7 linked regions of the Homo sapiens genome follow. The protein of the gene in region 5 purifies or fractionates together with the protein of the main gene of each other region. This does not show direct contact. Each region holds a gene or a part of one and is shown on either strand. Other genes may lie near its edges. The genes, in order: NRAS, RSL1D1, MKI67, PDCD11, RRP1B, DDX56 and DDX47.

The links.
Region 1: the proteins of RRP1B (region 5) and NRAS purify together in Homo sapiens (co-immunoprecipitation; one large-scale study listed by IntAct). This does not show direct contact.
Region 2: the proteins of RRP1B (region 5) and RSL1D1 purify together in Homo sapiens (affinity purification with mass spectrometry; 2 studies listed by BioGRID and IntAct, with this or other methods). This does not show direct contact.
Region 3: the proteins of RRP1B (region 5) and MKI67 purify together in Homo sapiens (co-immunoprecipitation; 2 studies listed by IntAct, with this or other methods). This does not show direct contact.
Region 4: the proteins of RRP1B (region 5) and PDCD11 purify together in Homo sapiens (co-immunoprecipitation; one large-scale study listed by IntAct). This does not show direct contact.
Region 6: the proteins of RRP1B (region 5) and DDX56 purify together in Homo sapiens (affinity purification with mass spectrometry; 2 studies listed by BioGRID and IntAct, with this or other methods). This does not show direct contact.
Region 7: the proteins of RRP1B (region 5) and DDX47 purify together in Homo sapiens (co-immunoprecipitation; 2 studies listed by IntAct, with this or other methods). This does not show direct contact.

The regions. Positions count from the first base shown.
Region 1 is NC_000001.11:114,703,969-114,706,771, reverse strand, and holds the end of NRAS (GTPase NRas), read left to right. Parts: 3' UTR 1-2,303; downstream 2,304-2,803. UniProt on the Homo sapiens protein: Ras proteins bind GDP/GTP and possess intrinsic GTPase activity.
Region 2 is NC_000016.10:11,841,543-11,845,042, reverse strand, and holds part of RSL1D1 (ribosomal L1 domain-containing protein 1), read left to right. Parts: intron 1-3,042; coding exon 3,043-3,136; intron 3,137-3,222; coding exon 3,223-3,348; intron 3,349-3,500. UniProt on the Homo sapiens protein: Regulates cellular senescence through inhibition of PTEN translation. Acts as a pro-apoptotic regulator in response to DNA damage.
Region 3 is NC_000010.11:128,112,924-128,116,423, reverse strand, and holds part of MKI67 (proliferation marker protein Ki-67), read left to right. Parts: intron 1-416; coding exon 417-1,496; intron 1,497-2,821; coding exon 2,822-2,997; intron 2,998-3,500. UniProt on the Homo sapiens protein: Protein that associates with the surface of mitotic chromosomes and acts both as a chromosome repellent during early mitosis and chromosome attractant during late mitosis.
Region 4 is NC_000010.11:103,424,126-103,427,625, reverse strand, and holds part of PDCD11 (protein RRP5 homolog), read right to left. Parts: intron 2,643-3,500; coding exon 2,101-2,642; intron 298-2,100; coding exon 235-297; intron 1-234. UniProt on the Homo sapiens protein: Essential for the generation of mature 18S rRNA, specifically necessary for cleavages at sites A0, 1 and 2 of the 47S precursor. Directly interacts with U3 snoRNA. Involved in the biogenesis of rRNA.
Region 5 is NC_000021.9:43,683,560-43,687,059, forward strand, and holds part of RRP1B (ribosomal RNA processing protein 1 homolog B), read left to right. Parts: intron 1-993; coding exon 994-1,091; intron 1,092-2,210; coding exon 2,211-2,230; intron 2,231-3,244; coding exon 3,245-3,376; intron 3,377-3,500. UniProt on the Homo sapiens protein: Positively regulates DNA damage-induced apoptosis by acting as a transcriptional coactivator of proapoptotic target genes of the transcriptional activator E2F1.
Region 6 is NC_000007.14:44,568,107-44,570,908, reverse strand, and holds part of DDX56 (probable ATP-dependent RNA helicase DDX56), read left to right. Parts: intron 1-31; coding exon 32-151; intron 152-780; coding exon 781-894; intron 895-1,005; coding exon 1,006-1,100; intron 1,101-1,705; coding exon 1,706-1,779; intron 1,780-1,916; coding exon 1,917-2,006; intron 2,007-2,685; coding exon 2,686-2,791; intron 2,792-2,802. UniProt on the Homo sapiens protein: Nucleolar RNA helicase that plays a role in various biological processes including innate immunity, ribosome biogenesis or nucleolus organization. Plays an essential role in maintaining nucleolar integrity in planarian stem cells.
Region 7 is NC_000012.12:12,823,346-12,826,845, forward strand, and holds part of DDX47 (probable ATP-dependent RNA helicase DDX47), read left to right. Parts: intron 1-524; coding exon 525-671; intron 672-1,194; coding exon 1,195-1,332; intron 1,333-2,654; coding exon 2,655-2,725; intron 2,726-3,500. UniProt on the Homo sapiens protein: Required for efficient ribosome biogenesis. May have a role in mRNA splicing. Involved in apoptosis.

The sequences.
Region 1 (2,803 bases), on a different chromosome or scaffold from region 5:
ATTCTTCTGCATTTGCTCATTGCACCAGTAACTCCAGCTAGTAATTTTGCTAGGTAGCTGCAGTTAGCCCTGCAAGGAAAGAAGAGGTCAGTTAGCACAAACCCTTTACCATGACTGGAAAACTCAGTATCACGTATTTAAACATTTTTTTTTCTTTTAGCCATGTAGAAACTCTAAATTAAGCCAATATTCTCATTTGAGAATGAGGATGTCTCAGCTGAGAAACGTTTTAAATTCTCTTTATTCATAATGTTCTTTGAAGGGTTTAAAACAAGATGTTGATAAATCTAAGCTGATGAGTTTGCTCAAAACAGGAAGTTGAAATTGTTGAGACAGGAATGGAAAATATAATTAATTGATACCTATGAGGATTTGGAGGCTTGGCATTTTAATTTGCAGATAATACCCTGGTAATTCTCATGAAAAATAGACTTGGATAACTTTTGATAAAAGACTAATTCCAAAATGGCCACTTTGTTCCTGTCTTTAATATCTAAATACTTACTGAGGTCCTCCATCTTCTATATTATGAATTTTCATTTATTAAGCAAATGTCATATTACCTTGAAATTCAGAAGAGAAGAAACATATACTGTGTCCAGAGTATAATGAACCTGCAGAGTTGTGCTTCTTACTGCTAATTCTGGGAGCTTTCACAGTACTGTCATCATTTGTAAATGGAAATTCTGCTTTTCTGTTTCTGCTCCTTCTGGAGCAGTGCTACTCTGTAATTTTCCTGAGGCTTATCACCTCAGTCATTTCTTTTTTAAATGTCTGTGACTGGCAGTGATTCTTTTTCTTAAAAATCTATTAAATTTGATGTCAAATTAGGGAGAAAGATAGTTACTCATCTTGGGCTCTTGTGCCAATAGCCCTTGTATGTATGTACTTAGAGTTTTCCAAGTATGTTCTAAGCACAGAAGTTTCTAAATGGGGCCAAAATTCAGACTTGAGTATGTTCTTTGAATACCTTAAGAAGTTACAATTAGCCGGGCATGGTGGCCCGTGCCTGTAGTCCCAGCTACTTGAGAGGCTGAGGCAGGAGAATCACTTCAACCCAGGAGGTGGAGGTTACAGTGAGCAGAGATCGTGCCACTGCACTCCAGCCTGGGTGACAAGAGAGACTTGTCTCCAAAAAAAAAGTTACACCTAGGTGTGAATTTTGGCACAAAGGAGTGACAAACTTATAGTTAAAAGCTGAATAACTTCAGTGTGGTATAAAACGTGGTTTTTAGGCTATGTTTGTGATTGCTGAAAAGAATTCTAGTTTACCTCAAAATCCTTCTCTTTCCCCAAATTAAGTGCCTGGCCAGCTGTCATAAATTACATATTCCTTTTGGTTTTTTTAAAGGTTACATGTTCAAGAGTGAAAATAAGATGTTCTGTCTGAAGGCTACCATGCCGGATCTGTAAATGAACCTGTTAAATGCTGTATTTGCTCCAACGGCTTACTATAGAATGTTACTTAATACAATATCATACTTATTACAATTTTTACTATAGGAGTGTAATAGGTAAAATTAATCTCTATTTTAGTGGGCCCATGTTTAGTCTTTCACCATCCTTTAAACTGCTGTGAATTTTTTTGTCATGACTTGAAAGCAAGGATAGAGAAACACTTTAGAGATATGTGGGGTTTTTTTACCATTCCAGAGCTTGTGAGCATAATCATATTTGCTTTATATTTATAGTCATGAACTCCTAAGTTGGCAGCTACAACCAAGAACCAAAAAATGGTGCGTTCTGCTTCTTGTAATTCATCTCTGCTAATAAATTATAAGAAGCAAGGAAAATTAGGGAAAATATTTTATTTGGATGGTTTCTATAAACAAGGGACTATAATTCTTGTACATTATTTTTCATCTTTGCTGTTTCTTTGAGCAGTCTAATGTGCCACACAATTATCTAAGGTATTTGTTTTCTATAAGAATTGTTTTAAAAGTATTCTTGTTACCAGAGTAGTTGTATTATATTTCAAAACGTAAGATGATTTTTAAAAGCCTGAGTACTGACCTAAGATGGAATTGTATGAACTCTGCTCTGGAGGGAGGGGAGGATGTCCGTGGAAGTTGTAAGACTTTTATTTTTTTGTGCCATCAAATATAGGTAAAAATAATTGTGCAATTCTGCTGTTTAAACAGGAACTATTGGCCTCCTTGGCCCTAAATGGAAGGGCCGATATTTTAAGTTGATTATTTTATTGTAAATTAATCCAACCTAGTTCTTTTTAATTTGGTTGAATGTTTTTTCTTGTTAAATGATGTTTAAAAAATAAAAACTGGAAGTTCTTGGCTTAGTCATAATTCTTATATTCACTGAAGTGCCTTTATAGAATGCTAATATTAATTTCAAACTTTTGGATGTGACATTTGGAAGTGTTGGAATATCTGAGTTCCTCATTTCATCATAACATCAAATATATCAAAGCCTGCTTTAAAGTATTACCTTGGGGATGATTCATAGCTATTTGTCAGATTTGCATACATTAAGATGCCATTGGAGCTCTTTTGTCTCGTTTTTGCATTACTGCACAATCTAGCCATCTTGGTATAGGTGGAGGAGCATTGATGCTAGGGGCTGGAGAACTTGAGGCCCGATATAATTTTACTACGCCGGCCCAGTTTCTTCAATTGCAAAATAGAAGAGTTGAATTAGGATATATCAGATTTCCCAACCTTAAGGAGACTTTAAAAAGAATAATATCAAACCTAGGCATTTTCAACTAACACTGGAATACTAATTTTGGAGACCTTGGTTTACTCTACCAAAGACATCAAAATTTTTTTTCACTTTTTTTTCTTGA
Region 2 (3,500 bases), on a different chromosome or scaffold from region 5:
ATATTGGTTTAACCTTACCCTGGATACTGAGCTAGGCGGAGCCCCCACACCTAGTCTTACCTACTAGAACAGATGTTTTAGGGCAGTGATTGCTTCCAACCTCTGGCTGAGCAAAGGATGCGGTTCAGGCTATTTTATTAGGCTGAGAAGTGACTTAAGTTTGTATTATTGGCAGTGTATCAGCTTGGGGAGGTAGGGCAGGTTTTAAATGTATTGAAAATACATTTTATGAAGTACTGCACTTGCTGACTGCGGTGTGGAGATGGCTAGCTGCCAGTAAGGCAGAGCTGTAGGCCACTGCCCTTCCACCCAGAGATTCCCCAGGAGCCGTGCAGACCCAGTGGACACAGTCGGCAGAAAACAACACAGACTTCTTGCCTCTGCTCACCAGGGAGGCCTGACCCCAGGGGAGTGTCTCCAGGTAGAGCAGAGCAGGGTACTGGTGGGCAGGACAGGTGGTCTCTGGTGTTGTCTTTAGCCTGCTGCTGGGAATCCCTTCATCAGGTGTAATGAAGTAGCCTAGAAGAGTTGGTCACGGAGCCTAGACCCCTACCCCTTTGGTTAAAGGCTAATGTCAAAGTAGTGGCTCATGGAAGTGGTTGGCTAGAAGTTCAGGCCTTGTTTATGGGACCCATGAGTATCTGGGAGAAGAAGATGGTACCATGAAGGCAGGTAAAGGAGCAGCAGTCTCCTGCCACTGGGGATTTTCCAAGGCAAAAGCAACAGCTTAAAGAAAGTTGCAGACAATTGAGAAAAAAAGAAATCATTCTTTATTTCCTCTCTTACCTTTCCCCAGCAAAAGAATTTATTTTCCTCTTCCACTTCTGTTCCTCTCCCTTCTTCCCCCCCACCATCTTTCCATCTGGGATGCTCAGGTGTGCTTGCAGGCAGGTGGTGACAGGCACAGGGAGTGGGCAGTGCCCAGTCTTTGGCTGAAGAGAGAGAGGAGCAACAGTCCGTCTCATTCCTCATTCCGCAGACACTGTGCCGACAGTGAGCCTTCCTTCTGGCTCACTTCCTTCTGGCCCCAGCGCTGAGCCCTCCAGGCTTCCCACTGGGCTTCTGCCTGCACTCTGTTTCACCTGAAGGGATGGTCTTGCTCGTAGCTGAAAGACACTATTCCACCAGGGACAAGAACTATTTACTCTTTTTTTTTTTTTTTTTTTTTTTTGAGACAGAGTTCTTGCTCTGTCGCCCAGGCTAGAGTGCAGTGGCTTGATCTCAGCTCACTGCAAGCTCCGCCTGCCGGGTTCACACCATTCTTCTGCCTCAGCCTCCCAAGTAGCTGGGACTATAGGCGCCCACCACAATGCCCAGCTAATTTTTTTGTATTTTTTTAGTAGAGACGGTGTTTTACCATGTTAACCAGGATGGTCTCGGTCTCCTGACCTCGTGATCTGCCCACCTTGGCCTCCCAACGTGCTGGGATTACAGGCGTGAGCCACCACGCCCAGCCACAGAACTATTTATTCTTGAACATGGCGGCTGGGTAGAGCAGTAGAACTATAGAGAGAGCAGGTGACCCTCCTGGAGGTAGGTCCCTTTAGAACAGCTTGAAGGCGGACTCAGCGACATGGGGTTGTCTAAGATAAAGGTAGAACCTCCTCTGGCCCTGCCTCCCAATGCGCCTAACCTCACAGTCAGGTGCTACCAGCTCTTTAATCACTGCCTCGGCTGGGCATGGTGGCTCACGCTTGTAATCCCAGCACTTTGGGAGACCGTGGCAGGTGGATCAGTTGAGGGCAGGTGTTTGAGACCAGTCTGGCCAACACAGTGAAACCCCATCTCTACTAAAAATACACAAATTAGGCCGGGCGCAGTGGTTCACGCCTGTAATCCCAGCACTTTGAGAGGCCGAGGCAGGCGGATCACCTGAGGTCGGGAGTTTGAGACCAGCCTGACCAACATGGAGAAACCCCGTCTCTACTAAAAAAAAAAAAAAAAATACAAAAAATTAGCCGGGCGTGGTGGCGCATTCCTGTAATCCCAGCTACTCGGGAGGCTGAGGCAGGAGAATCGCTTGAACCCAGGAGGTGGGGGTTGCAGTGAGCCAAGATCACGCCATTGCACTCCAGCCTGGGCAACGAGTGAAACTGCATCTCAAAAAAAAAAAAAAAAAATTAGCTGGGCGTGGTGGCATGCGCCTGTAATCTCAGCTACTAGGGAGGCTGAGGCAGGAGAATTGCTTGAACCCAGGAGGCGAAGGTTGCAGTGGGCCGAGATCACGTCACTGCACTTCAGCCTGGGCGACAGAGCAAACTCCATCTCAAAAAAAAAAAAAGTCACCCCTTCATGATGTGACATTTTACTTTAGGTAGAAGGAATTTCTAGTACATGAAAGATGATAATCTTCCTTTAAAACATATTTAGGCTGGGTGTGGTGACTCATGTGTATAATCCCAGCACTTTGGGAGGTTGAGGCAGGAGGATCACTTGAGCCCAGGAGTTCCATACCAGCCTGGTGGATCACTTGAGCTCAGGAGTGAGAACCCATCTCTACAAAAAATACAAAAATCAGCTGGGTGACCTGTAGTCCCAGCTACTCCGGAGGCTGAGTTGGAAGGATTACTTAAGCCCAGTACGTTGATTGTGCCACTGCATTTCAGCCTGGGCGACAGGAAAACCCTGTCTCAAAAATGAAATAAAATATATTTAGAACCTAAAGATTTTAATGGGATTTTTTTGTTTGTTTTTTTGTTTTGTTTTTTTTTTCAGACTGTGTTTTTCCCTGTTACCCAGGCTGGAGTGCAGTCGCCAGATCTGGGCTCACTGTATGTAGCCTTGAGCTCCTGGGCTCAGGTGATTTTTCTGCCTCAGCCTCCTGAGTAACTGGGATTACAGGCATGTACCACCATGCCCAGTTAATTTTTGTTAGTGTGGTAGAGACAGGATTTTGCCATGTTGCCCGGGATTAATATTTCTACCTTTTTAAAAGAAAAAGAAAAACTTGAGGATTATGTATTTATATTTCTCATATACCTGCCTGGTTTATTTTGAAAAATGGTTTTTTAAAATCTTGTCTAATACTATATTAAATTTCAGTGCTATACGTATTGGTCACGTTGGAATGCAAATTGAGCACATCATTGAAAACATTGTTGCTGTCACCAAAGGACTTTCAGAAAAATTGCCAGAGGTACAGTATTACAGGTGCATCAATTGATTGTTCATTTAAAAGAAACAAAGTATATGTAGACGATGTTACTCTTTTCTTTGTTTCAGAAGTGGGAGAGCGTGAAACTCCTGTTTGTGAAAACTGAGAAATCGGCTGCACTTCCCATCTTTTCCTCGTTTGTCAGCAATTGGGATGAAGCCACCAAAAGATCTTTGCTTAATAAGAAGAAAAAAGTTAGTAGAATTTTAAATACTTACAGAATGAATAATGAAGGGTGTAAATTCAGTCACTAGGAGAGAAGTAGACCATCATCGCTGCCCGACTTTTCAGTTATCTTCTGGTTTTGTGGTGGTTGTGCTTTTGTCACTTTACATGAGGTAAAATG
Region 3 (3,500 bases), on a different chromosome or scaffold from region 5:
GAAGGGGCAACAAGAATGCAAGTGCTAAATGTCTAGCCTGTCAGAAATGGAGGAGGTGTCATTTAACATGTCAACGACAGACAGATGCCTAACTTTCCCTTGGTGACTGATGGTATGCTATGCTTAGGAGAGACTCTAGATATGAGAAAATTGCCTGTTCAGCTGTCAACTCAGTTCTCAGTAGTTAGATAGCATGTGCTATTTCATACTGGTTATTGGAGCTGATATGATTTATATATTTGTATCATAATACTAGTATCATAAGACTTGCAAGTTTTAGGCATTAAATAATTTGTAGGCCAAGTAAAAGCTAGCTTATAAGACAACCTGAAACAATTAAAATATTGAATTCCACAAATGTTAATCATTGAGAAAATGCTGAACTTCTGTTTCTTATTTCATAATTCATTGCCAAGATGAGAAAGCTCAAGATTCCAAGGCCTATTCAAAAATCACTGAAGGAAAAGTTTCAGGAAATCCTCAGGTACATATCAAGAATGTCAAAGAAGACAGTACCGCAGATGACTCAAAAGACAGTGTTGCTCAGGGAACAACTAATGTTCATTCCTCAGAACATGCTGGACGTAATGGCAGAAATGCAGCTGATCCCATTTCTGGGGATTTTAAAGAAATTTCCAGCGTTAAATTAGTGAGCCGTTATGGAGAATTGAAGTCTGTTCCCACTACACAATGTCTTGACAATAGCAAAAAAAATGAATCTCCCTTTTGGAAGCTTTATGAGTCAGTGAAGAAAGAGTTGGATGTAAAATCACAAAAAGAAAATGTCCTACAGTATTGTAGAAAATCTGGATTACAAACTGATTACGCAACAGAGAAAGAAAGTGCTGATGGTTTACAGGGGGAGACCCAACTGTTGGTCTCGCGTAAGTCAAGACCAAAATCTGGTGGGAGCGGCCACGCTGTGGCAGAGCCTGCTTCACCTGAACAAGAGCTTGACCAGAACAAGGGGAAGGGAAGAGACGTGGAGTCTGTTCAGACTCCCAGCAAGGCTGTGGGCGCCAGCTTTCCTCTCTATGAGCCGGCTAAAATGAAGACCCCTGTACAATATTCACAGCAACAAAATTCTCCACAAAAACATAAGAACAAAGACCTGTATACTACTGGTAGAAGAGAATCTGTGAATCTGGGTAAAAGTGAAGGCTTCAAGGCTGGTGATAAAACTCTTACTCCCAGGAAGCTTTCAACTAGAAATCGAACACCAGCTAAAGTTGAAGATGCAGCTGACTCTGCCACTAAGCCAGAAAATCTCTCTTCCAAAACCAGAGGAAGTATTCCTACAGATGTGGAAGTTCTGCCTACGGAAACTGAAATTCACAATGAGCCATTTTTAACTCTGTGGCTCACTCAAGTTGAGAGGAAGATCCAAAAGGATTCCCTCAGCAAGCCTGAGAAATTGGGCACTACAGCTGGACAGATGTGCTCTGGGTTACCTGGTCTTAGTTCAGTTGATATCAACAACTTTGGTGATTCCATTAGTAAGTTTATTTAATTGTAAATTTATTTTTCTAAAAGATGAACACCTTCTATGTAGCTGTGAGACCTTCATTCTTTCAGTAGTGATTAGCTTTGTGGAAGAGAATGTAAGCACATAAGGCACAGGGATAAGACAGACACGCACGCTGTTTTCGCTAATAGATGAATACTGAAGGCCTAGGTAATTGTAACAAGGAATGACAGAAGAGATGGAAGTTGTCAGGCAATCATGAAGCAGGGGTTATTGAAGGAGATAGGGTGGCCCCAAAAATATTTGATTCTCCTCCATCTATCACAAAATAGAAAAGAGAATAATCATAATTGCTTTTCACATGGAGTTTAATTCTGAACTACAATCAACTGTATCATATGAGTTTGGTCATGTGGAATAAATCACTGGTAATCATTAAACATAGCGGTAGTTCTCAGGTGTTGATACTCTGTTTTCAGAGTGTCCTACAAACAATTTGCTGTAAACACTGGACTGTACCCATGAGTCCATATGCCACATGAACACTTGATCCTTGGTGCAATAGCAGTGCCCGTGGCTAGGTTGTCTTTTTAGAGCTATGTCACACATGAGGAAACGCACAACCCAAGGCCAGTCAGGAAGTGGCAGAGGTAGGACCTTTATAGCAGGTGTGGTAGCTCCTCGGGAGCTTCCTACACTCCTAGGGACTGGCTATTAGAAGAAAAGTTGTCTGGGCCACAGACGCAGTATTCGTACTCCAGGCTGTGTTTCTGCAGGTGGCCTATAGCGGTGGGGCATGAGGCTGTCGATAAAATAAGGTTTGTAACATCAGTCTCAGTATTCCACCAAGCTTCCTAGTGGGGAAGCATCACTTAGGCAAGGGATTTACATTAACTGGTGGCTCAGGAAAATGTGTGGCCGGGACTGGGCTCCTGTGAATTGACTCAGAACCACCTGGAGGAGTTTTTACAGCTCATGCATTCTGGTCACTGGGTGGCTCAGGCTGAGACCCAAGTGCATGTCTTTAGAGAGTTCTCTGGCTGTCGTCCCCCTACTCTAAGGTGAAATCTGCTGCTGCAGACTCCTCCTTTCTATGTCCACACATAATGTTTCAATGTTTTAAAGAAAGCCTCTGTACTGTCCAGTGGCAACTTGACGTCTTAGTGGCCACTCCCGCAATCCTTTAGGAACTCTTAGTAGCTTAGCTTCACCAGGATTGCAAGAATAGAGGCGTGCTGTAGGTACTGTGTTTCGATGACTTTTCACTTGGTTTGTCTTTAATGCTAACGTGAAATAAATCACTAGTCTTGGTATGTTTTTTCATTGCTCTTTCCACATTTGTATCCGTTACTTTAGATGAGAGTGAGGGAATACCTTTGAAAAGAAGGCGTGTGTCCTTTGGTGGGCACCTAAGACCTGAACTATTTGATGAAAACTTGCCTCCTAATACGCCTCTCAAAAGGGGAGAAGCCCCAACCAAAAGAAAGTCTCTGGTAATGCACACTCCACCTGTCCTGAAGAAAATCATCAAGGTGAGTTGAACAAGCAGCATCCCATTCACGCCCAGTGGCTCACACACCGGGTACCTATTCCTTTCCAAATACTGACACAAGTAGAATTATGATGAAGACCTTTATTTATTTATTAAAGAAACAAGTTTTTAAAAAGACGAATGAAAGCTCATTGATGTGGGCACCAGCAAAGGAGCCCCTGGGTCCCTGACCGTGGTGCTGATGCGACCGAGTCGGGGGAGTCCTTGATGTTGTCCTTTTCGTGCAGAAGTTCCCAGACACCCACGCTTACAGCACTGCGTAATCACCTGCAGGCACCGTCAGAATAGCCAATTACAAAGATTCTGGATACATTACCACGTCGACCCATAAGGATTGTTTTATTTTCTTTTAGAGTTACAAGGCTATAGTTAAGGCATTTACCTGGTGTGAAGGAAAATCAATGGCACATCTTCCTTTTACACCTTCAGCTCTTTAGAATATTTGCTTGCCTGTTCCTTTGCTGTGTTGTCCTTCCTGGGTTT
Region 4 (3,500 bases), on a different chromosome or scaffold from region 5:
AAACCAGGCTTTAAATTGATACTTAAAACCTGTACACAGCTTTTGCATTAATTTTCATATGATCCCTCCAGCCCTAGGAGAACCAAATATCCCCACTAGAGAAACAAGAAAACTTGGACAGAGAAAGGCAAAAATCAATCCTAACACTGGTAAAATCAAGATTCGAATTCGGGATTCCTAATTCCAAAGCCCAGTGCTCTTTCCGTAAGACAGTGCTGCTAATGTCCCCCTCACCTTGGCCGAACACTCAGCTCCGGGATGGTTCGAACGAATCTGGGGTGACTTATTGGGAGATACCTGGAGAAACAAATAAGCTGAATCATTTCTCTTCATCTCTGTAACACAGTAATCTGTAGGTCAGGATTTCTCCCTACTCTCCACCAAACCAAGCTCACAAAAGCACCCTGTTCCACTGTCACACCACCACTGAAGACAGATGTGTCAGGCTGAAGGTTTCCATTCCCAACCTTTGCAGTTATTAGTAAGGAGCAGGCTCATCTGAATTTTTTTTTTTTCTGGGACAAGGTCTCACTCTGTCACCCAAGCTGGAATGCAGTGGCGCAATCATGGCTCACTGTAGCCTCAATCTCCTGGGCTCAAGCAATCCTCCCAGCTCAGCCTCCCAAGTAGCTGGGACTATAGGTGTATGCCACCATGCCCAGCTAATTTTTATTTTTATTTATTTATTTTTTTTTTTGTAGAGATGGGGTCTCACCATGTTGCCCAGGCAGGTCTTGAACTCCTGGGCTCAGGTTTTCCACCTCCCTCATCGTCCCAAAGTGCTGGGATTACAGGGTTCAGCCACTACACCCAGCCTCACCTGATTTTTTTTTTTTTTTTGAAACGGAGTCTCACTCTCTTGCCCAGGCTAGAGTGCAATGGCACAATCTCAGCTCACTGCAACCTCTGCCTCCTGAGTTCAAGTGATTCTCCTGCCTCAGCTTCCCGAGTAGCTGGGACTACAGGCACTGTGCCCGGCTAATTTTTGTTTTTTCAGTAGACGGGGTTTCACCATGTTGGCCAGGCTAGTCTTGAACTCCTGATCTCAGGTGATCCACCCACCTCAGCCTCCCAAAAGTGCTGGAATTACAGGCGTGAGCCACCGTGCCTGGCCTGATCTTTTAGGATTGTCATATCAGATCCTGAAAACAATTTTCCTTACAGTCTATATACTCCAATTCTTTCATTCTAAAAATAAGGAAACTGAGGTCTTTATTTAGAGGATAATTGACTTACTGAAGACCCCACAGTTAGCTACTGAAATTAATATGCAAATTATTGGCCAGACTTTGAATTCTTTTTTTGCTGTTCTTGTTATAGCAAGAATTTCTGCTACAGTAACATGTGGCACTAGATTTAAAGTAAATGAGGATAATTAAAGTGGGAGGTGGAGAATGACAACTGCAGATGTATACAGCGCAGTAACTGAGGCCAGCAACCCACTAGGCAAAGAACAGACTACACGTTCTCTCTTTCAGTCTTCACCATGGCCCTACAAAGTAGTCGCTACCATGACTCTCACGTTACAAATTAAGAAAATAAAATTTGGACTTAAGTAGCTACTGCCACATGGTCACAGTTAATCTAGAATTCAAACCCGGGTCTGACTCCAAACCCATGTTCTTAACAACCACACCATATATTCCATATTTTTAAAAAGAATAATGCACTGTAATCCCAGCACTTTGGGAGGTGGAGGTGAGCAAATCACAAGGTCAGGAGATTGAGACCATCCTGGCTAACACAGTGAAACCCCATCTCTATTAAAAACACAAAAAGTTAGCCGGGCGTGGTGGTGGGTGCCTGTAGTCCCAGCTACTTGGGAGGCTGAGGCAGGAGAAGGGTGTGAACCCAGGAGGCAGAGCTTGCAGTGAGGCGAGATCACACCACTGCACTTCAGCCTGGGCAACAGAGTGAGACTCCGTCTCAAAAAAAAGAAAAAAAAAAGAATCTTGCAAAATAATTCTTTGGTGAATGCCTTTTGTTAACTAAAAGAGAATCTGACTTACATGCAACTTTTTGGAGCCCACCTACTTTCCCAGTCCTCCCACAACAACAACAATCTCCCTCGAAGCCAGCCCACCCCCAGAGCCTCCATACTTGAATGTCTTCATGTCTCGCCCGCCAATCACTCGGGCAGTGACCGTCTTCCCAACCTTCAGCTTGGTAGTAGGAGAGGTGCCCTCTGGAACATCATCTAGAATGTGGGAGGCATGGATACAGCCAATAATGCCATCTTCCAGAGTCACAACCACATGGGTAGGCTTAATGGACTTGACAGTCCCTGTGACCATGTCCCCGATGGAGAGGGTGTGCTTCTTTATGGTCCCTACAGTCAGAGCTGGATCCACTTCTTCATCCTCATCAACTGTCTCAGAGTCCTTCTGGGTCGGCCTCATGGTCCTCTTGGCAGCCGGCCCCTCCACAGCCAAAAGAAGGCCAGTCACTCCTGGTTCTGTGGTCTTGAGGGTTAGGGAGACACCCTGTCCCACCTGCAATTTCTCTGAGTCAAAGCGGAAGGTGTCGTTGAGGTGAGAGGTCAGGGAGAAAGCTGCCAGGTGGCCCGTCTCTACCAAGGAGGCAATGGCAAAGGACTTCTCCAAGTGCTGCACAATCGCCTGGTGTTCGCTGCCTTTCCTCAGCTAGAAGAGAGAAAAGCCACCATCCCTGCTTTCCTTACACAGCATGGTCACTCACTCATGGCCCCACTGGGCAGGGTGTGGCTGAGGAAACCCTCTGGGGTCCCAAGGCTAGGGAACTCAAGGCTGGTCTGAGCTGGAACAGACTAGCCTTCACTCCCTGGACCTAGCTTTCCTCTCCTGTACACTAAACTCATGGGGCTGCCTCTGAATTACCTTGGCTTGGTTTTTGCTTTGCTTTGAATTTAAATTGCAAGACCCTATCCTAGATCTAGTAAATCTGAATTTTACAAGTTATTGAGATAATTCTGATGCACAGCCTTGCAACCTCTAACAGCTCTCTCAGCTTAGAGACACTGTGGTTCCTGAATCTGTCCTGCAGCTCCCCCACCCCCAATTAATCACTCTTCAACCCAAGCAATGAATAGAGTCATTACTGAGAGCTTATTGTGTGCAAGGCACCTAGCCTCTCTTTCCTCAAAATCCAAATTGTGCTCATGCTCTTATATGCCCAAGCTTCCCTTAGGTGATAAAATGGTACAGGGTCCTGCTAGAAAACTGAATGAGAGGTTAGTATTGCTTTCCATTCTCTCTCTGTCCTAAACTCTTAATACTGTAAGCAACTGGAAATTAAGGATTATATCTACACTGCACCATACTCTGTGCAACTAGGTGCCTAATAAGTGCTTTAGACAATAACCAAATATATTCATCACCCAGAGAAAAATAATAATTTTTCCCTCAAACCCATTCTTATGTCACACAAAAGTGTCCAGAAGACAAGGCAGGCGAGGGTGTGGACGCACAGCTTGGAGGTCTGAACTGCCCACAGACATGCTGTTTGGCTCATGGGATGTTTTT
Region 5 (3,500 bases):
GAGTTTTGAAAGAGATAGTAGCACTTATTTTGAATGGCTAAGCTCTCCTCTGTTCTCTACCACAGAGCCAGCTCTAGTGGCACTTTTCAAATAAAAAAAAGTTTGCCAAGTACAGATTGCAAATCTAGATTAAATTTAAAATTTAATTACAAGCTCACGCCTGTAATCCCAGCACTTTGGGAGGCCCAGGCGGGCAGATCACCTGAGGTCAAGAGTTCGAGACCAGCCTGGCCAACACAGTGAAACCCGTCTCTACTAAAAATACAAAAATTAGCCCGACACCGTGGCGCACGCCTGTAATCCCAGCTACTCGGGAGGCTGAGGCAGGAAAATCATTTGAACCCGGGAGGTGGAGGTTGCAGTGAACTGAGATCATGCCACTGCACTCCAGCCTGGGTGACAGACTCTGGCTCAAAAAAAAAAAAAAAAAAGCACACCCAGGTAAATTTTGTTGTGGGTACTCTATCACAATTTTTTTTTTTTAAGAATTGCTTACCCAGCTTTTCCCAAGAATAATTTTTTTTTTTTTTGAGACAGAGTCGCACTCTGTCTCCCAGGCTGGAGTGCGGTGGCTCGATCTCGGCTCACTGCAAGCTCTGCCTCCTGAGTTCACGCCATTCTCCTGCCTCAGCCTCCCGAGTAGCTGGGACTACAGGCGCCCGCCATCACGCCCGGCTAATATTTTGTATTTTTAGTAGAGACGGGGTTTTGCCGTGTTAGCCAGGATGGTCTCGATGTCCTGACCTTGTGATCCACCCGCCTCAGCCTCCCAAAGTGCTGGGATTACAGGCATGAGCCACCGCGCCCGGCCTGAACATGCATTTTTCAAAGGTAGTGCTTGTGCTCCTGGTTGCCAAGTCCCAGCACAAGCTTGTTTAGCCTATCTGTTGCCAAATGCTTCAGTAAGGGTTTCTCTTACTAGCAGATGTAAATGGCCAAGTCAGGCAGTGTTGTTTGGCTGCAGACTTATGTTTAGTTTCTCTTCCTGCCTAGTTTGACTATAAGGCTGTTGCTGATCGACTCCTGGAAATGACCAGCAGGAAGAACACGCCCCACTTCAACAGGAAGCGCCTCTCCAAACTCATCAAGAAGTCAGTAACTGGGGAGAGGGTTCTGACATCATCATTCCTTTAGTTCTCATCTCCTGGTGTGGGACAAGCCATCTGCATGCTTATCTTTTTTCTTTCTTCTTTTTTTGTCCTTTAATGCTTTTGTGTATAGCAATGTAATAGACACATGTAAACTGAAAAGCTTAATGGAAACAGCAGTCCCACCCCTCAGGTTCCATTCTTCCAGTGCAGCCATACTCATCTCTTAGCTGCTTTAGAATGATGTGAAGTCTATTCATGTCTAAAATGAACCAACCAGAAACTGATGTGAATCTGCTATTTAGGTGTCTTCTGCTGGTGTGCTGCTGAGATAGATAGGGTTAATTCTTTACCTCTCCCCTCCCTCCCATATGGCTATGCCAAAAGTGTTAGTTAATTCAGCTGTCAGTGTTGATGTCACTCTGACCATAGTGACATGATGACCTGGAATTCATGGAGGGCCTCGTGTGGCTTGCTGTCATTGGTGACAACAACTGTCTGATCACACTCTAGGAGCCGGGCACTGCTCTGAGCACTTTGTATACATTCAAGTATTCCATGTTAAGCCCCCAGAAAGTAGCTCCTGTAGTTTTGCCCATTTCCCAGCTGGTTCTTAGGGCACAGGATGGTCCTAGCTTGCCTGAGGTCCCTGCCATCCAGTGTCTCCTCCCCCATGCACCTCCCCACACTGCGCTTCGATGCGTCTTGTTTGTTCTAATGCACAAAAATTGTGTGAAGCAAAACATGGCTTCGCCTTTCTCCACTGGAGAATTGAATATGAGAGAGATCTAAGCTATTTCTGCCTTCAGAAACAAAAATTGAATTTCTTAGTTTGATTTGGGTGTGCCAAGATGCATCTTTGGCCCGCCGTGTCCTTGCTGGTATTGATGGTAACCGAGGGCGGCACTGGCCTTGAGCTTTTTGGCTTTTGTATTGCACCACCCTTCCCTCACAGAATTTCCTGTCTAGCCTCCCCTCCTGGAGGAGAACGTGAATTAACAACTATTTAACTATGGCTTGTATTTTAAAAATCAAATACATATGTCTACAGAAGACAGAAGGGATTTCTTTATGAACATTTGTTATTTTTTTATTTTTTATTTTTTATTTTTTTATTTTTAGATTCCAAGACCTTTCTGAAGGTGAGGCGCGCCAAGAATCATCATTCATGGTGTTTTTCGTGAATATGGACCCCACTGGGGGCGTTGATGCCAAACGCTGAGAAACAAGATTGAAAGAACTTTACTGAAAACCTCTGATAAGAAATAATAGTCCCTAGCCCAGGCAAAATAGCAAGGCCACATCTCTACTAAAAATGAAAAAATTAGCCAGGCGTGGTGGCGTGATCCTGTAGTCCCAGTCACTTGGGAGTCTAAGAGGGGAGGATCGCTTGAGCCCAGGAGGTCCAGGATGCAGTAAGTTGTAATCACACCACTGCACTCCAGCCTGGGTGACACAACAAGACCCCAACTTTTAAGAAAGACAGACCAGCCCTTACCTAGTCATACCGCAGTACAGCGTGGGAAGTGATGCAAGCCTAGGGCTCCCTGCAGCCTGCCCACCTTCCTATCCTGGGCTCTCCCTAACCACCAAAGCAAGAGGGCAGACTGCTCTCATGTGTGGGTACTGCGATGTTTTGGTTTGGTTTTTATTATTTTAACTAGATGGATTTTCAATGGCCTAGGAAGGTTTTAATTGGATACTCTATGAAGGTAAAAAATGTAATTTCTCAGGATCCCTTTCATTTGCTCTTATGGTCAATGGTCCCCCCGGGAAAGGCTGATGCTGTAAGCTTTGTTACATTTGGACAAGTCAGTGAAGTTACCCCATACCCGTCATTCACTAGGGACACTTGGAATTGGGAAAGGCACCAGCAAGCTGGTTGGAATGCAGAGACTGCATTAGCCAAGCGTCCGGGGTCCAGCCATGGAGGGTGTCACCGAGGGCTTGTGATCCCTTGCCTTGCCTTGGTTGAGAAATCCACAAAGCTTTTTTAAGTCTGTAATTCCTGTGTCAGCAGCGCTCAGGTTTGGGTGGGAGAAACGGTGAGGAACGATGATGATGAGGCAGAAATTGGGAGGGGTGCTGCTCTTAGGCCCCTGGGGCAGAGTCTTGAGCGCCTGGGGAAGCTAACAGTGTGTCACTCTGGCATCTAGGAAGCAGTATATCTCAACTCAGTTTTGCGGAGGACATTTCTGCTGATGAAGATGACCAAATCCTCAGTCAAGGAAAGCATAAGAAGAAAGGAAATAAACTTTTAGAGAAAACTAACTTGGAAAAGGAGAAAGGTAAGCTGTAAAGCTAAAAAGAAGGGCACGACTCAGCCCTTGGGGAGCGGCATGCACCATGGAGGCCTCGGAGACTTGAGCTCGTGCCGTCATAAAGCATTAGCAGAGCCCAAAGCTTCAGTCT
Region 6 (2,802 bases), on a different chromosome or scaffold from region 5:
GAGCTGATTCTCTGTCCGCTCTTGGCTGCAGGTGCCACATCATCTCACAGTTCAACCAAGGCTTCTACGACTGTGTCATAGCAACTGATGCTGAAGTCCTGGGGGCCCCAGTCAAGGGCAAGCGTCGGGGCCGAGGGCCCAAAGGGGACAAGTGAGTCCATGCCTCTTTTTCCATCCCTCCCCAGAAATGCCTGTGTTTTTAGCTTTTTGGAAGACTAAAACCAGAGTGCACAGAGCAGGGAGCCAAACCTTCCAGGCCTGGCTGGTAGTGTAGCCCAGAGAGCCCCACAGGTTCTTGCTCAGCTGCCTGGATATAGAGAAGGGAGTGGATGGTGCACACTGCACATGCACCACGAAGGGCAAAACTGCCGGGGTTGTTGGCATGCAGAGCCCTGCAGGGGAGATGGCCCATCCTGCATTGGTGGTATGGCTGTGACTTGCAGGGAGCATATTTCTGAAGGGAAAAGGAACCCCCCAACTCTCCAGTCTCTGTCCAGCTGAAGGCTTGACTAGCTCAGAGTTGGTTTTCAGATCACCATGTAGGGCAATGAGTTCTGCTGTTGTCCCAGAACAGAGGTCAGGCCGAGATTTGGGTACATGTCAAAGCTCCAGGCTGCCCCAGGAAACCCTGACTCCTGGAACGGTTCCATTGTTGGAGAGTCCTCTGTATGTCAGGGTCTTATGATCTACAGGCATTTAGAGGAAGTTTTGCTGATTCAGCGTGTGAATACGTGCCCAGAGGAGAGGAAGGGTCCGGCTGACATTGAGTTATCTCTGCAGGGCCTCTGATCCGGAAGCAGGTGTGGCCCGGGGCATAGACTTCCACCATGTGTCTGCTGTGCTCAACTTTGATCTTCCCCCAACCCCTGAGGCCTACATCCATCGAGCTGGCAGGTAGTAGTGTGACGGCCCAGGCATCTGCATGGTAGGCACACTGAGGGACTTGGGGTGTGCTGGACAGAGCCTGCGGGTTGGAGATGCAAGCTGCACTGTCTTCCCTTGCAGGACAGCACGCGCTAACAACCCAGGCATAGTCTTAACCTTTGTGCTTCCCACGGAGCAGTTCCACTTAGGCAAGATTGAGGAGCTTCTCAGTGGAGGTAAGAGCCTGGCTCTTGTGGTCCTGGGCCAGGGTCAGGCTTCTTCCACAATGCTTTAAAACTCCATGATAATGATGACAGAGGTCACAACATAGTGTGACAGGCCACTTCCACCATCCATCCTTGTTCTGCCCTGAGTGGCAGGCACTGTCCCCCTTGAGAGATAAACAAATTGAGGTAATTTGTCCAAAGTTGTGTTTACTGTCTGCCTCATGAGCGTTGAGTGACCTGACAGGCTGCTGTGACAGCTCAGGACAGCACCTGACCCCAGGGTGCTGGGTGGTCCTGGACTGCTCTCTGTGGCCGTCGTCATGGGGGTACCTTGACTCCCAAGGAATACCATGGGGTACTCCTTGGGAGAGGAGAAGAGAGTGGGTGACGGGTTCTTGGGCTTGGGGCCACACAGGCCACCCCCATCCACACACGGGGACAGATGGGTCATCACTGTAAGAGGCCCAGGTGCAGCTAACCTGCATGTTCGGCATCCCAGGAAGGCGGTGGGTCCCCTGCTGCTTTCCCCCAAGGGGGAGGTGCAGGAGGCCTCCAATGAAGACCCTATCCTAAGGCCTCAGCCTGTGGGACCCTCGCTGCTTTCTTCTCCACAGAGAACAGGGGCCCCATTCTGCTCCCCTACCAGTTCCGGATGGAGGAGATCGAGGGCTTCCGCTATCGCTGCAGGGTGAGCTGCTGTGGTGGGGAGGGGAATGAGAGGGGAGGGGCTGTGGCCCAGGGATTGCACCGTCTTGCTGAGCATCCAGGTGTGAAGGGAGGATTTGGGGCAGCCTCACTGTCTTGACCTTCAGTGTCCACCCCCAGGATGCCATGCGCTCAGTGACTAAGCAGGCCATTCGGGAGGCAAGATTGAAGGAGATCAAGGAAGAGCTTCTGCATTCTGAGAAGCTTAAGGTGAGTGGATGGGAGGTGAGAAGGGGATAGATCTTAGACGGCTGCCCTTTTTGGAGACTGGCTGAGCTCCGAGTGGTGAGAAGCAGAGAACTGGGCAGTTTTCTGGCCTTTGGCACGGAAGGGGAGGAAATGGACCCAGAATCATGGAAGGAAGCCAGTCTGTTCTGCTTGGTGGTAAATTGGCACAACCTTATGGTGGACACTGTCCAGCAGAATTACGAGCTCATGTGTCCTTTCATCCGAAATTCCACTTCTGGAACTTAATCCTGGTCACGCTTGTGAATGTGCACAGTCAAGCATGTGCCTGCATTCATCCATCCATGGCATTATCATGGAACCAAAAGATGGAAACAGCCTGGGGCCACCATAGGGGGCTTGCTAGGTAAACTCAGGTGCATTCAGAGCCGAAGGTTACATGGGAAGGAATGAGGTTGGTTGCGTGTCCATATGGAACAGTCTGTAAGATGATGCCCAGCAAAAAGGGGTACAGGGTACTGCCATGTGTGTCATGGAGAAGGGAAAATGGAAACATCCACTCCCGGGAGGTTCTGAGAAATGCACAGAAGCAGCTGCCTCATGCCTTTTGAAACACATGAGTGTGTTATCCTTTGAAAAGCTAGGTCTGTGAAGTCACAGAAGAAAGATGCTCACTCTGTGGCTCTCCCTCTTCCCCCGGCAGACATACTTTGAAGACAACCCTAGGGACCTCCAGCTGCTGCGGCATGACCTACCTTTGCACCCCGCAGTGGTGAAGCCCCACCTGGGCCATGTTCCTGACTACCTGGGTGAGTGTGGC
Region 7 (3,500 bases), on a different chromosome or scaffold from region 5:
GCCTCTCCCTCTTCTTTTCACCAAAGCATCTGAAAATGTGTCAACTCTTGATTAGGTAAGAGCTGTAATGCAGATTGGCATCCTGTCTGTTTGCTTTAGAGTGCATATCGTGCTTATATTATCACCGATAAGCCAGACATGCCAGGAATTCACAACACATTAAATCACAATACTGAGGTCATGATGTAATCATATAATTCCTTCCCATCCCCATCCTTGAGGTAATTTTTCCTTTGTCTGCTTATTATGTGGCTTTTATTTAGGATGAAGCCCCTGGTTTTGTGCTTTGATATAAGGACTTCTCCTGTTTGCTGAGTACAGATCTCCTGCCTGCCTTAAGGCTAAGTGGGGAATATGTGGTTCACAGAGATGATAATGCTGGTTAAGGAATGCAAAGCTGGCAGCTGGAGGTCTGGATAATTGAAAAGCGACTATAGGCTTAGTCTTTACCTTATGTATATGCCAGGTCTCCAATCCTGTCTCCCAGGTTCAATGACATATATTGTTTTGGGTTTGTAACTTAGGATACCTACCTGGTTTATATTCTAAATGAATTGGCTGGAAACTCCTTTATGATATTCTGCAGCACCTGTAATAATACCCAGAGAACAGCTTTGCTACTGCGAAATCTTGGCTTCACTGCCATCCCCCTCCATGGACAAATGAGTCAGGTAAGGATTCATCATCATCATCAGCCATGCACTGGTGGCGTGAGCGAGATAAACCTCCTAACAGTAGGTTTGTACAATAAGGCCATAGGGCACCGATGCCTGTTTCCATAATTGTTGTAATTTTATGGGCTTTGAAGTGTTGCTCTAGATACTTACTTTCTCCTTTCAGGGTAGCGAGAGGCTCCCATTAGAATATTTCATATGTACCTGTCTGGTTTGCAAGCTGTTGAGTTGATTTATTCAGCCCTAGTGGTAATAATGACTCTGGCCTCTAAAAACATTAATAAATTATTTCCCAGTTACCTTTCTATCGTGTCAAACTACCCTTATTTTGTATCATATATATTTTTTTAATTTTTTGTTGCTTCCATATTTCTGTTTTGACCTGTGAAGCCCCATTCAAAACTTAGGGGGAAAAACCTTTAAAAAATTTATGTCTGTTTGTTCTCGTGTTTGTCTATTTTGTGTTTTGTATTCCAAAACATAGGTTAAGTTTTCCAACATTTCTTTTTCATTACCTCAGAGTAAGCGCCTAGGATCCCTTAATAAGTTTAAGGCCAAGGCCCGTTCCATTCTTCTAGCAACTGACGTTGCCAGCCGAGGTTTGGACATACCTCATGTAGATGTGGTTGTCAACTTTGACATTCCTACCCATTCCAAGGTGAGTCCTATTGCTAACTTACCTTTCTAGTCCTAAAGTGTATTTCTTAATGGACTGTCTTCTGTCTTTCCTTAGTTACAGCAGTTATTTTGTTCCTGGTTAATTAAGTATCAAAAAACAAGAAAGCCCTTGGTTAGTTCATTCACATCATCTTGCACAGGCCTGTGTATGTAACATTAGTACATATGAAAGAGGTAGCCAAGGAGAGTTATTAGATGCTCATAGAAGGGGCTGGTGCGCCACATACTGATCTTGTCACTGTCATTTCTTGAGAATGACAGCTTGTAGTTTTTTTGAGGCGGAGTCTCGCTCTGAGTTTTCTGAGGTGGAGTCTGCACCCAGTCTGGAGTGCAGTGGCGCAATCTTGGCTCACTGCATGCTCTGCCTCCTGGGTTCACGCCATTCTCCTGCCTCAGCCTCCCGAGTAGCTGGGACTACAGGCGCCCACCACCACGCCCGGCTAGTATTTTTAGTAGAGATGGGGTTTCACCGTGTTAGTCAGGACGGTCTTGATCTCCTGACCTCGTGATCTGCCCACCTCGGCCTCCCAAAGTGCTGGGATTACAGGCGTGAGCCACCGTGCCCGGCCTACAGCTTGTAGTGCTTAGTGTATCTCAAGGTTTCTCAGCCTTGGCACTATTAACATTTTAAGCTTTCGAATTCCTTGTTGTGGGGGTTGTTCTTTGAGTTGAAGGATTCCTAGTAGCATTCCTGGCCTTTACCCAGTAGATAACAGCATCACACAGTCTTCCACCTGTGATAATCAGAAATATTTCCAGACATTACCAGTGTCCCTTGAGGATGGCAGAATCACCCCTGGATGAGAACTGTTGTGTCTCTTGTCTTTGTATTTAACTGCTGTAGACAAGATGCTGTCTCATTTGATTTTCATAACAACTCTGTAATATGGGCATGTATTTCTATTCCTGTTCACTAGATAGAAACCAAGGTTCAGAGAGGTTATGTGATTTGCAGGTAATTGTGTAACTGGCAGATGGGAAGGATCAGAGCTGTAATCCAGCTCTGCCTCGAGATCCAGTGCTGTTTTTTAAAATACCATGCAGCCTGCGACCATGTAGATATGCTTTGTAGATTTATCTGTCTGTGAAAGAAGGGAAAGCATTGGATCAATTTTGTGCTGCAAGGAGAACAAAAAAGATGAAGTAGATTTGTCTCAACAAATTGCCCCGGCCATTTATTTTCTCCATGTTACGAAATGAATCTATTTTCTTTCAAAGGTTTTGCAGCAGGACTTTGCATATGTAGTTTTTTTTAAACTTATAATCCATATAACTTGAATTTATTTACCCTTTTTGTTTTAGGATTACATCCATCGAGTAGGTCGAACAGCTAGAGCTGGGCGCTCCGGAAAGGCTATTACTTTTGTCACACAGTAAGTAAATCAGCTTTAGGGCCGAGCAATGTAGAGAAAAGAGCAGAACTTTCAAGCCACTGGCTGAGAACCTGACACTACCATTTACTACACTAATCACTTTCATACTGAAAACCAGGATGAAGGAGTTGAAAGATGGGAATAATAATACCTATCTAGCAGGGTTTTGGTGAAAATTGGAGATTATATATGTAAAAGATCTAGTATAGTATTTGGCATGTAGAATGGTACCTAGAGCTGGAGAGCAATTGCCTTTGTGTCAACTCAGAAAGTATTAGAATAACTATTTCCAATTGTTTTTTTTAAAGAAACAAATTTTTATGTACCCAAGGCTGTTCTGTGAATAAATACCTTGAGGGATTTTCTCCCTCCCTCCTTTCCTTTTTTTTTTTGTATTTGTCTCGCTCTGTCGCCTAGGCTGGAGTGCAGTGGTGCAGTCTTGGCTAAGTGCACCTTCCACCCCCTGGGCTCAAGCAATCCTCCTACCTCACCATAGCTTCCCAAGTAGCTGGGACCACAGGTGCATGCCAGCACACCTGGCTTTTTAAAAAATATTTTTAGTAGAGATAGGGTTTTGTCATGTTGGCCAGGCTGGTCTTGAACTCCTGAGCTCAAGCGATCCACCTGCCTTAGCCTCTCATAGTGCTGGGATTACAGGCACAAGCCACCTGCCTGGCCGATTTTTGTTTCTTTTTCTTTTTTTAAGCAGCAAGGTTTCACTCTGTTGACCAGGCTGGAGTGCAGTGACTTGATCATAGCTCACTGCAGCTTCAAA